Regions from separate parts of the Homo sapiens genome. Here region 2 is linked to region 1. Evidence: fine-mapped expression QTL. Tissue or cell type: thyroid. Region 1 holds a variant in brackets; the other region holds the start of a gene. All regions are shown on one strand. Distances are from middle to middle. Region 1 overlaps RGS6 (regulator of G protein signaling 6). Region 2 holds the start of RGS6 (regulator of G protein signaling 6).

Evidence for each region. PIP is the estimated chance that this variant, and not a neighbour inherited with it, causes the effect.
Region 2: it holds the start of RGS6, and the variant in region 1 is fine-mapped to the expression of RGS6 in thyroid (GTEx, PIP 0.98).

Annotation. Positions count from the first base shown.
Region 1 is chr14:71,965,161-71,970,544 of GRCh38, reverse strand. All of the region lies in intron 2 of RGS6 (regulator of G protein signaling 6), which reads right to left. Among named protein-coding and RNA genes, the nearest start is that of RGS6, 35 kb to the right of the region's middle. The variant T/C (reference allele first, on the strand shown) is at 3,260.
Region 2 is chr14:71,929,115-71,934,498 of GRCh38, reverse strand. RGS6 (regulator of G protein signaling 6) reads right to left here and starts at 2,070. Exons shown (of 18, transcript NM_001204424.2): 1 at 1,558-2,070. LOC124903404 (translation initiation factor IF-2-like) reads right to left here and starts at 2,573. Exons shown (of 2, transcript XM_047432046.1): 1 at 2,474-2,573; 2 at 1,609-2,330. The coding sequence starts at 2,573. The coding sequence ends at 1,609. RefSeq lists silencers at 1,822-1,981, 2,002-2,281.

The DNA.
Region 1 (5,384 bases):
CTCCATAGCATCGGATTCTTCCAGGCTAGATCCTTCCCTTCTTGCTGCATACCACAGCCAATGTAACTAAAATAGTGTGACATTTACTTTCTGGATGTATGCCTAAACCAACAACTGCCCAGGACTTCAAGGGCCCTAAATCATTAGGAAGAGTGACCTTGGGGTATCAGAGCAACATAAAGGCTAGACTCAAATTCCAGCAGAAAAGGAGTCAATAACTAGAAATGAATAGGTGAAGGAAGCCATCAGTGACGAGGCTAGGCAACTAACCTGTTGATATACAAGAACATTGGCCTTTTTTGTCTTCCTCTAAAACCCCTATTTCATCTATGACACTATATACTACTGGCAATGTACAGTGTTGCTACTTAAACACCACTTGTTATGTATATAGCATATAATTAATACTACAAAATGATAATTTTATAAATGTCTTAAATGTTATTAGCAAGCCAAAGAAACAGGTTGCCACCAAGATGTCATCTAAATTCCACTGTTGAATATTAAATAATTACAATTAAAGCTTTTTATTCTAATGCCTGACTTAACTGGGCTTTATCTCAATCCAATTTAGATTACCTACAACTATCTAAAATATTTCTTCAAAAGCTCAAAAGACCTTTAAACGTGCATATAGTCTCACAACATTGTTTTGATATCAGGGAAGTGTACTAATTTACGAAAGATCAAAAAGTTATAGAATGGAACTTTGAAATCATTGCAGAAAGGTATTTGTACATTTTTAGACCAATTTCCTCCCTTTACAGAAGGGGAAATGAGGCCAAAGTATTACATTTTATTTATTAAGCTAATGGTGAGTGCATATAATTCATTTTTTAATTCTTTCTACTTTACATGGACACTGAATATATTCTTTTTGTGTTAGAAGTATCTCACAATTGAAAAGGAAGGAGGAAAAGAATGAAGAAGGTAGAAAACAAAACAAGAAGTAGAATCAGGAAAGTGAAGTTCTCCACACAAAGCTGGGACCAGACAGGCAGAGCCTCCAGCTTTTGGATGTAGAAGACATCCAGAGTGTGACATCTGCCATGCCTCCATCCTTCTGGATGTAGAAGACATCCAGAGTGTGATGTCTTCCATGCCTCCTGACCCAAACAAATCAAATTACCAGTCTAGTTAGGAGAACTTTGTCAAGAGGCATTGTTAACACCAAAGATCCAAACAAAATCAGAAAGCAACCTACTCTTACTCAAAAGCAATCTTACCTATGTAAACATTTTAGAAAATCTTTACCGAAGAAGCAAAAGCACCAATGAGTAGAATGAAACTTTAGCATTAAAAATGTGAGACATTCCATCAATGATATACTGGATTAAGAAAATGTGGCACATATACACCATGGAATACTATGCAGCCATAAAAAAGGATGAGTTCGTGTCCTTTGTAGGGACATGGATGAAGCTGGAAACCATCATTCTCAGCAAACTATTGCAAGAACAAAAAACCAAACACTGCATCTTCTCACTCACAGGTGGGAATTGAACAATGAGAACACTTGGACACAGGAAGGGGAACATCACACACTGGGGCCTGTCGTGGGGTGGCAGGAGTGGGGAGGGAAAGCATTAGGAGACATGCCTAATGTAAATGAGAGTTAATGGGTGCAGCACACCAACATGGCACATGTATACATATGTAACAAACCTGCACGTTGTGCACATGTACCCTAGAACTTAAAGTATTTTTTAAAAATCAATAAAAAAGTGAGACATTAATCCAAGTCAACTCTCCCAGAAGAAACATGAAAGTCAAAGATCTGCCACATATTATTTTCATTAATTTAATGTGCCCCATGGCTACTCAGCTCCAACAATGTGGTAACAGTAGTCTGTGGTTGATAACATGGTAGTCGCATAGGGTGCTAGAAAGGCAACTGATTGGAGTGGCCAGGCTCCCTGGACACCATTATGGCTTCCATGGGAAAGTGCTGAGGAGCCTTAATCAAGTTACTCACCCTCTCTATACTTTTAGTTCTTTCATCTATAAAATAAGACTAGAAAATATCTAAGGAAAAGCTACTAAAATCCCTATGACAAGAGCTTGGTTCTTCTACGTTTTGAGAGATCTACAAATAATTATGAAATCAAAAATCTAATTCAAAACACCAACTCTCTCATTACTTTGCAACACATACTATGTCTGGATATTGTAAAAGACTAAGTAAGTGCTTTTCAAACTTAGTTGGGCATCAGATTTTCCTGAGAACATCTTGAAACTCAGATTCCTAGGACCCAGCTCAGACCTATTAAATAGAAATACCTTGTGGAGGGGGTCCTTTGAGGATTAACATTTTTATAAAGCACCCTAAATGATGTGATGTATAGCTAGGTTCAAATATCATCATTACACTGGGCAATTCAGTAACTCAGGATCCTAAGGATACAGGAATATAAAAAAGGTTAACAGGTCTGGGTGTCTTCATGAATAATTAAGGTTTTCTTTTAAATAGATCTTTAATGTGACCAATACATTTTTCATACACACCTCCAATCCAAACTGTGAATATGAGGGATGAAAAACTAAATTAGAAAGTCTGTTCAAGTCAATAAATAAGTCATGCCTTGGGAAAGTACAACTTCTCACAGTTAATGACATGAAAACATGAAAAGGAAATGAAGAGTGTTCTGAAAAGTGTGGGCTTTAAAAACCCACCCATCATTACTCATATGTCAGGAGGTTACCATCCTAAATGTCATTTAAAAGTCACAACAACATTATGGACATAATCATCCACTTATTACTCGAAAGTTTACCCAAAAGCTTCATTTCTCTAGATTTGGCTTTTTAAATGTCAGCATCTGAATCAACACAATGCAGTCCAAGCAAAAATTTCACACTGAAAGTGTCTGACAACAAGAGAAAAAAAACAACAACAACAAACAAGAGAAAGAAAACAAAAATGAAAGCACAATTTTTTAAATGTAAATTGTAGTCGTGGGTATCTAAGGAAAGGTTTGGGTTTATGGCTATGACTTTGAATAATTGATTACACAAAAGGACTTCCAAAGAAAATGCTTTGAATTGTCATTGGCTTCACAATCCAACCCTTACTGATGATACCTTGAGGATAATGTCCTACAGCAAGTAAGTTCTTGGTTGTAGCCAAAAGGCAGCCTACAGCATCAGGAGTAGAAAACTATATGAAAATCCCATAGTTCAAGTACAACCATGGTTTAAGTCAGTCAGGTTAACTAGGTTTAAAATGGTGTCAGGACCTGAGCTCACACTGTGCAATAAG[T/C]GTGTCTTCTTTCTAACAGACTGAACCAATTCAATGTCCCTTTTATGGTAATTAATATAGCAAATAAACATGAACATATATATATATATATATATACTCTTTACACAAGTTTGTCACACGAAAGTAAGATATAGTTTCATTACTAGTTGTCATTTCTCTAAAGAACTACAGCAATTGACATGTTAGTTACTAAATTAAACCAGAAAAGGGCCCCTTACTACCACCAAAAAGTAAAAACCAAGTTCTCATAAACCTGCAGGAAGTTTTTTTTTCCTGTAAACATAATACAAACATTCTAGTAGAAAGGTGGTTGGGTTACATGACCTTTGCATTTCTTATTCTTTAATAATCCATGAATTTGCAATCCTCTGAAGAATATAAAAATATTTTTATTGTTTTCCTGTGTCTTAAAAAAAAACTCACTGTATAAATTTGCTCTAGACAACTTATTAACAGCACCAACATTTAGAGATTTTATCATTTATTTCCTCTCCAAGTGTCACTGACTCTACAAGACCTAAACATGAAAAGAAAAAGAGATATTCATTACGGACCACATTGTGGTCTAAGTAGGATATAAGATGCCTCATTCGATTTATCTAAAGTGATCTTCACAATTACCTTCCTCCCACATTTTTTTTTCTTTTTACAGATGAAAAAATTGTGGCTCATGGAAGTTAAAGAACTAACTTACAGTCATACTGCTAAAGAGTGGTAAAGTTGGCATTTTAACCTAAGTCTCACTCCAAAGCCCATGTTCCTACCAGCCTGGCACGGGGTCTCCCAGTTTGGGGGTGGGTTAAGAAAGTAACAATGACTCAATGTCTATTATTCTGTATGTTTCACTAATTGCTGAGTCCCATTAACCTATTTTTTTCTTTATCGCAATTTAATAAGCATGATTCTTAGAGATGGGTTATCTAGACATTCTCTTGCAAAGCAAAGAATTACAGAATCTTACACTCAAAGCCAGAATAATTTGAGAACTCTATTTTTACAAGGAAAAGAGAAAAATTCACCATATTGATCATCCAGGAATATCTAGTTCCACATTGCCCATATAAGTAATACACAGAGCCTCTCAGAATGCACAGAACTGAGTAGAAACTCAAGTAGTTAGTGAAATGAACATTAACTTATTTCCTTATTAACATACAAGAGAGTTAGTTTAAATTTTCACAAACATGCAAACATCAAAAAGGTGTACAATAAGAAGCAATTATGTCAAATTCAGCATGTACTAAAATAAACTTATGTGCCATTTTCTTCCTTTAAAATGTATTCTTTTTCCAAATATCCCAATTTGAATTAATAGCACCAATGATTTTCATTTACCCAACGTCAAAAACCCCGTCATCTTTGACCCTCTACTTGCCGCCTATATTCCTTCAGTTTCCAAGTCATTTTTAATCCAGACTTTAATTCCTCTTATCAGTTTCTCTTAATTCTGAAGGTGATTTCACAGGCTGGATTAGTGTCTCTCCTTTCCCTCCTTACCTTTCACACAGACACAGAAATCTCTCTCCTAGAGCCTCCGCTCTATCTTGATAACAATCCATTCAGCACAATGGGGCAACAGTCATAATCCCAAAGAGATCTCAATCTTGCAACTCTTGGCACAGAAGTTTTTCTTGATTAAATTGTCTAATTCAACACTAACATCTGGCTCCAGCCAGCCTCTCTTCCCAAAATCCTATCTCCATTTACTCCTTGTAATGCATCCTATGTCCAAGCTAACCAGTTCCGGTTGCTGTTACTTTCCTCAGCTCTGTGCCCTTGCTGAAACATCTCATCACCTGGTATGTTCTTCCTCTCTGCTTTCCACATAAAGCAATCCTGCACATATTTTAAAACTGAGTTCAAAGACCACTCTTCCACAAGCCCATTCTCACCTCTGAGGCTGGGAGAACTGGCCTCCTCCTCTGAAATTATGTAACACTCTACTTGCACATCTATTTTGGAAATTAACATTTAGACTCTATAACAGTTATTTGTGTACATCTTATGTCTCCTACCAACTGTAAGCATCTCATACAAATATACCTCTCTATCTCCCACAGCATTCAGCCCAGATTTTGTACATACTACGAGTCTGAAGAACTTTCAGTTCATACATCTTACACTA
Region 2 (5,384 bases), 36 kb after region 1:
ATATAAATTCAGTGAATGTTAACTGAAATTCCTTAAAGAAAATCAGAAGTAAAGTTAAGATCTGCCAGAATAAATATATAAAAGGAAACACTGGTGGCCTCTCTCCTTCATCACAATACCTCCCAACAGCTGACATTTATAGAACTTGCAGACTCTTTCAGGAAAGGATGAGTTATTGGGAATAGACTCTCTCTACATATATATAGTTTATGGTGCATGAGATCATATTTACAGGACAATTTAGCTTAAGAGTGGTACAATATCAAAGAACTTAGAATTTATCATCTATAGCATGCGAGATTTGGCTTGCAAAGGTTTCTCTCTCAAGAGTCTCACCAAATGTCCCTCAGCCCTCTACTTTCCTTCACAGAGTAGTCCCACCCATTGAAAAAGTGATAAATTAAGAATAAAGAATATACATCTTACAGAAAGTTTCCCACCATAGTCCCAGTTCCCACTCTATGTAATTACCTATTTGCCTATGAAAATTGATATGTAAGAGCCGTGTTGTCAACACATTTAACTAAACCTAACAGTTTCCTTTCAGTCTTAACACTTTTTGACAGACCATACACACACAAACTTGTAGCTCATTCTCTAACTCCATTTTGATACTTACAAGCCCAGTTCTTCCATCTCTCACCCTCCCTGGAAAGAAAGTCCAGTGGAAGTTTTACCTAAACTTGATTATTTTTGCGTTTTTCTTTGGGGTTGTTAAAGGTATTGATCAGAACTCACCTCCCAAGCATTGATAATCCCAAGCCGACGAGACCCCAAATATCTTCAGTTTGTAACATAGAAATGCTACTGGTCTCAATGACAGAGAAGGAAAATAACGTTCCTACTCCGTCAAATTAAGAAACAAAAATGAAATACAGCAGCTTTCATTCTGAACAAAACTAAATTTTCTGGGTCACTTTCCCTGTCTCACTGGGCCACTTCTTTACGCAGCCTGCTGGTGACTGTAAACACGGTCTCTTCACTCCTCACGCAACCAGTTCATTTGTCATCCTCTCCAAGCGAATAGCCACCGCTTCCTTTGCTAGCGCAGTTCCCAAACAACAAACCTCCCCACCCGCCCCTGCCCTCCACACCTCACCGCGGAGACTCGCTTTCTTTTCTTCCAAACCACAAATGGGCGAGCTTGTTCAGGGAAAAAGTTAATGAACGCCTGATTAGAGGCAAAGCTGCCCTACCTGCGATCACAACATCGGAAGACTGGAAGTATCTAAAAGCGCCATCCTCTGCGCTCTCGTCCCCGTCGGTGTGCGCTTCACACCCAGAAACCCAGGAACATGATTTATATGCAGACCTGCACCCATCCCACACAAGTCCACACGCCAGCTTGCCTAACCACTTATGTAAGCTCGTGCTTCCACAGTCCCAAACTGCAGACACACACACACGGGCACCTGTCACGCATCTGAAATGGACAAGCACCCACACCCAGGAGATGAAATCAACACATATTAATGGGGTGGGGAGGGAGGATACTGTTTTAAACCATGTTTTTCCCCCATTTGTTTCTTGCCCATTTTTTATCACAACTACAATTACCTTAGCAACCAAAGAATTGCCTTGACTCTCCCTCTGGCTCCAGAATTTTTCCTAAAGCCAACCTTGCGCCAGGTTCATGATAAAGCTGGAGAAGCCCAGGGAACCGGGGACCGGCAGCCTCTTGGGGGCGGAGGGGAAGTCTAGTCCGTCTCCGCGCCGCTCCCCACAGCCTCGCCTCCTCTTTCCGAGTTTCCGTGGTGGCGAGCGCAGGGGCTCAGCGAGCGAAGAGCGAAGCCCCGGGCCCGCGAGGACGCGCGGCGGGTCGCATGGTGCCGGGACTCGGGGCGCACAGGGTGTCCCCGGCGCGCTCCGGGCTGGCCTGGCTCTCCGCGCTCCCAGGCGTTCGCCGCTTGCCCGCCTCTGCCCGCCCCGGTCGGCAAGGGTGCGCGGAGGTCTGTCCGTTCCCTCGGCGCCTGGCGGCTCCGGCGGCTGTAGGAACGCGGCGCCCAGGCGGAGCTCTCGCCGCCGAGCAGGGCCGAGCGCGAGGAGCTGCCCCAACTCGCGAAGCCGTTCAGCTCCGCGGCCCGCGAGCTGCTGCAGCGGCGCCCGCTGTCGGATGCCGAGCGGAGCTGCAGCCCCGTGCCCCGCGCACCTGGGCGCCGGCACCTGGGCCCCGGCACCTGGGCCCGGACCGCGTGCTGCAGGGAGGGGCCGGCGGGCGGGGACCGGCACCTGAGCGCGTCCCGCGGGCGCCGCCGCACGGCTCACCTGTTCCCAGAGCCGCGGAAGGCGCAGACCGTGATTTGCTCGAGGAGGAGAAAACCTAGAAATGCCTCATCCTCAAGAAGCCGCCGAGAAAACCGAGAGACTGGCTCGACCGGGCGGAGGCTGCTTTCGTCAATTCCAAACTGGCCCGGTCCGGAAACTTCAGCGGCGTCAAGGTTCTCTTAGGGATTCCCGGCCCGGGGTGAGGTGCCCGGCGGCTTCTGAATCTCCCTCACTGACGTGTTGCTGGCGCCCTCTAAATTAAAACGGGACACCGCGACCGTCAGCGATATTGTTCCTAACCTCGTCATTTTTATGTATTCAACATGCACACCACACGCTGCATTTGGAATATTACAGGATGATTCCTATCTGGAACACTACAAAAGAACTTTCGAGAAAAGTAACTCTCAGATATTCTTGGGGGAAGCAGAAAAAAGTCGAAGACAGAAAATGAGAAAGTAACTTGAACTGATGCCTTTCTTTAACGTGGGAGTTTTGAAATGCGATGTGTACTTAGATTCAAAAAGCTGCAGGTGGAAATAGGACAAGATCACTAGTGCTGGACGGTAACCGTGGGATTTGTGTGCAATATCAATGCTATCAATATCAAGAATAAATTTGAGATTTAGTCCTGAATTGTAGTATGTCACCAGAAAAGGGGAAAAATACTTGAAATAAAATACCTAAATGCCTTTAACGATGGATGACCTGGACTCCTCATTCACATGGGTCCAGAAGTTAAAGAGTAAAGTCTCCTTCCCAAATTGTGTCTTTTCCCGCCATTCTACATTGATTAATGGATGTATTCATTCTTTCCTTCAATAGACAAATAGCACCTGCTCTGTGTTAGACCCTCTTCTAACATTAGAAATGGATAATAAAGGAAGCAGTCTCTGCCCTGAAGCCTTCACGTCGAATGGGATAACACACAAGCAGACATGTGTGTTATGGTAGGCTTAGTACACAGAAAGGCGGGGGGTGGGGGGAAACCTGCAACCAAGAGAAACCATACCCAGCCTAGTGAGGAAAATAGAATTGTAACAGATGTCCCAGTTGTTTATTAAAGCTGAAATATAAAATCTTTCTTTCCTCAGGCTCAATACTTGGCTCAAGCCGGTTGTGGAGCTGGCTGTGGCCGTTTGTCACAGTTAAAGAATAGGCTGTACATGGAGCGAAAGGTAGCAACTAGGGAAACTTCCGCTTTGAGGAGCTCTGCTTTTTTTTTTTTTTTTTTTTTTTTTTTTTTTTTTTTTTTTGAGACGTAGTTTCCTTCTTGTTGCCCAGGCTGGAGTGTGGTGGTGCAATCTTCGCTCACTGCAACCTCCGCCTCCCAGGTTCAAGCGATTCTCCTGCCTCAGCCTCCCAAGTAGCTGGGATTACAGGTGCCTGCCAGCTAATTTTTTGTGTGTTTTCAGTAGAGATGGGGTTTCACCATGTTGGCCAAGCTGGTCTCAAATTCCTGACCTCAGATGATCCACCCGCCTTGGCCACCCAAAGTGCTGGGATTACAGACTTGAGCCACCACACCCAGTGGGAACTCTGCATTTCTGAGGCTAGCAGCTCCTTGAGGGCCAAGTACAGCATGAAGGAATAATACTGTGGAAGTATAAACAGCAGGCTCCAGGCTCATCAGAAGAAAGCCTTACTGTGTACTTCTCTTTAAAAAAAAATATGTGAAATCAGATATTTATAGGAATTAGATATGTATTTTCATATTGATACATTTTGTGTATTATATGGGATTCCTGATATATCTATGTAGTATGGTTTCTTATACATAAAATATCTGATTTCATATGTATGTGTATGTATGTGGGGGGTATTTTATATATATATGTATGTAATAGAGACAGGACACATTTTTTGCTGACATGGCCAAGAGATTGGTTTATGTGCTAGGGAATTGAGCAAAGAAGTAAATACATTAAGAAAATTGGAGCCAGTCATCTCACTGCTGGAGAAGGGAATTACCAATACAGAAAGGCAAGAGATCTAGCTATGTGCCTTGAAGTTGGAGATGAAGGTGTAAAATGATTTTGGATCCAAAGAGATTATAGATAGATAGACAGAAAAATATAAGTGTATATGTGTGTGTATATGGTGATATATTTCCTAGGTTTGTCGACTGAGAAGGCCTAAAAGCAATGGCACCCCAGTAGCAATGAACACACCTAACACTCAGACCTTGGTTTCTTAATACCATCCTCCACTGAAAGGAACCACAGTTCCTTGGTATAGTGGATGAAACTAGAATAATTTGTTGTGCAAGGAAATGAGAAAATACTTAAAGAATTATGGAGACATGTCAAAAGAAGACAGAAGTCAGCTTGAAGGGGTTCCTGTTGGCCAAATCTTGAACTATTTAAGGAGTAAAATAGTTAATGACAAATTTAACCCTTTGAGTAAAATAAGAGTCCATGAGTCCATGCTGATAGAAACAGAGAAGGGAACTCTATAGTAGAATGCGACTAATAAATGAAGAAGAAAAGATAGAATTAGAAAACCACCATTTGGCAACCACCATCTTAATAATTGATTCAGGCCAGAATCATCAATAAATGCTAAAATTGGTGGGTAAAAGTTTGATGAGGAACAGGATATTTACATAGTCTCAAAGCATATCTCTAAAAATGTTCATTAATACATCATTAATTATTAATAAGTACAGCATACTTATTAACATGCAGCTGTAATACTTGGGAGGTATCATCTTAATCGACTGGTAAAATTTTACATAAATGAAAACCAGTGATGGGACAAATCAGCCTTGTGCAGCATCCTGATATGATATGCTGAGAATGTAGTGTCACTTCTTATGCATAAATATGTAAGTTAGGATAAAACATCAGACAAATGCAAATTGAAAGAAAAATCAAATAACTGGCCTGTATTCTTTAAAAATGTCAAGACTATGATAGTAAAGATGGTTTCAGATTGAAGGATGCTAAAGAGATGAGACAACTAAATGCAGCATGTGATCTTGAATGGGATCCAAAACCTATAAATGACTTTTGTGGCACAATCAGTGGATTCTGTGGATTCAATGGATTAAAATGGATCATTGTTATTTTCCTGATGTTGTACTCAAGGTATGTAGTAGAGTGTTCTTGTTTTTAGGA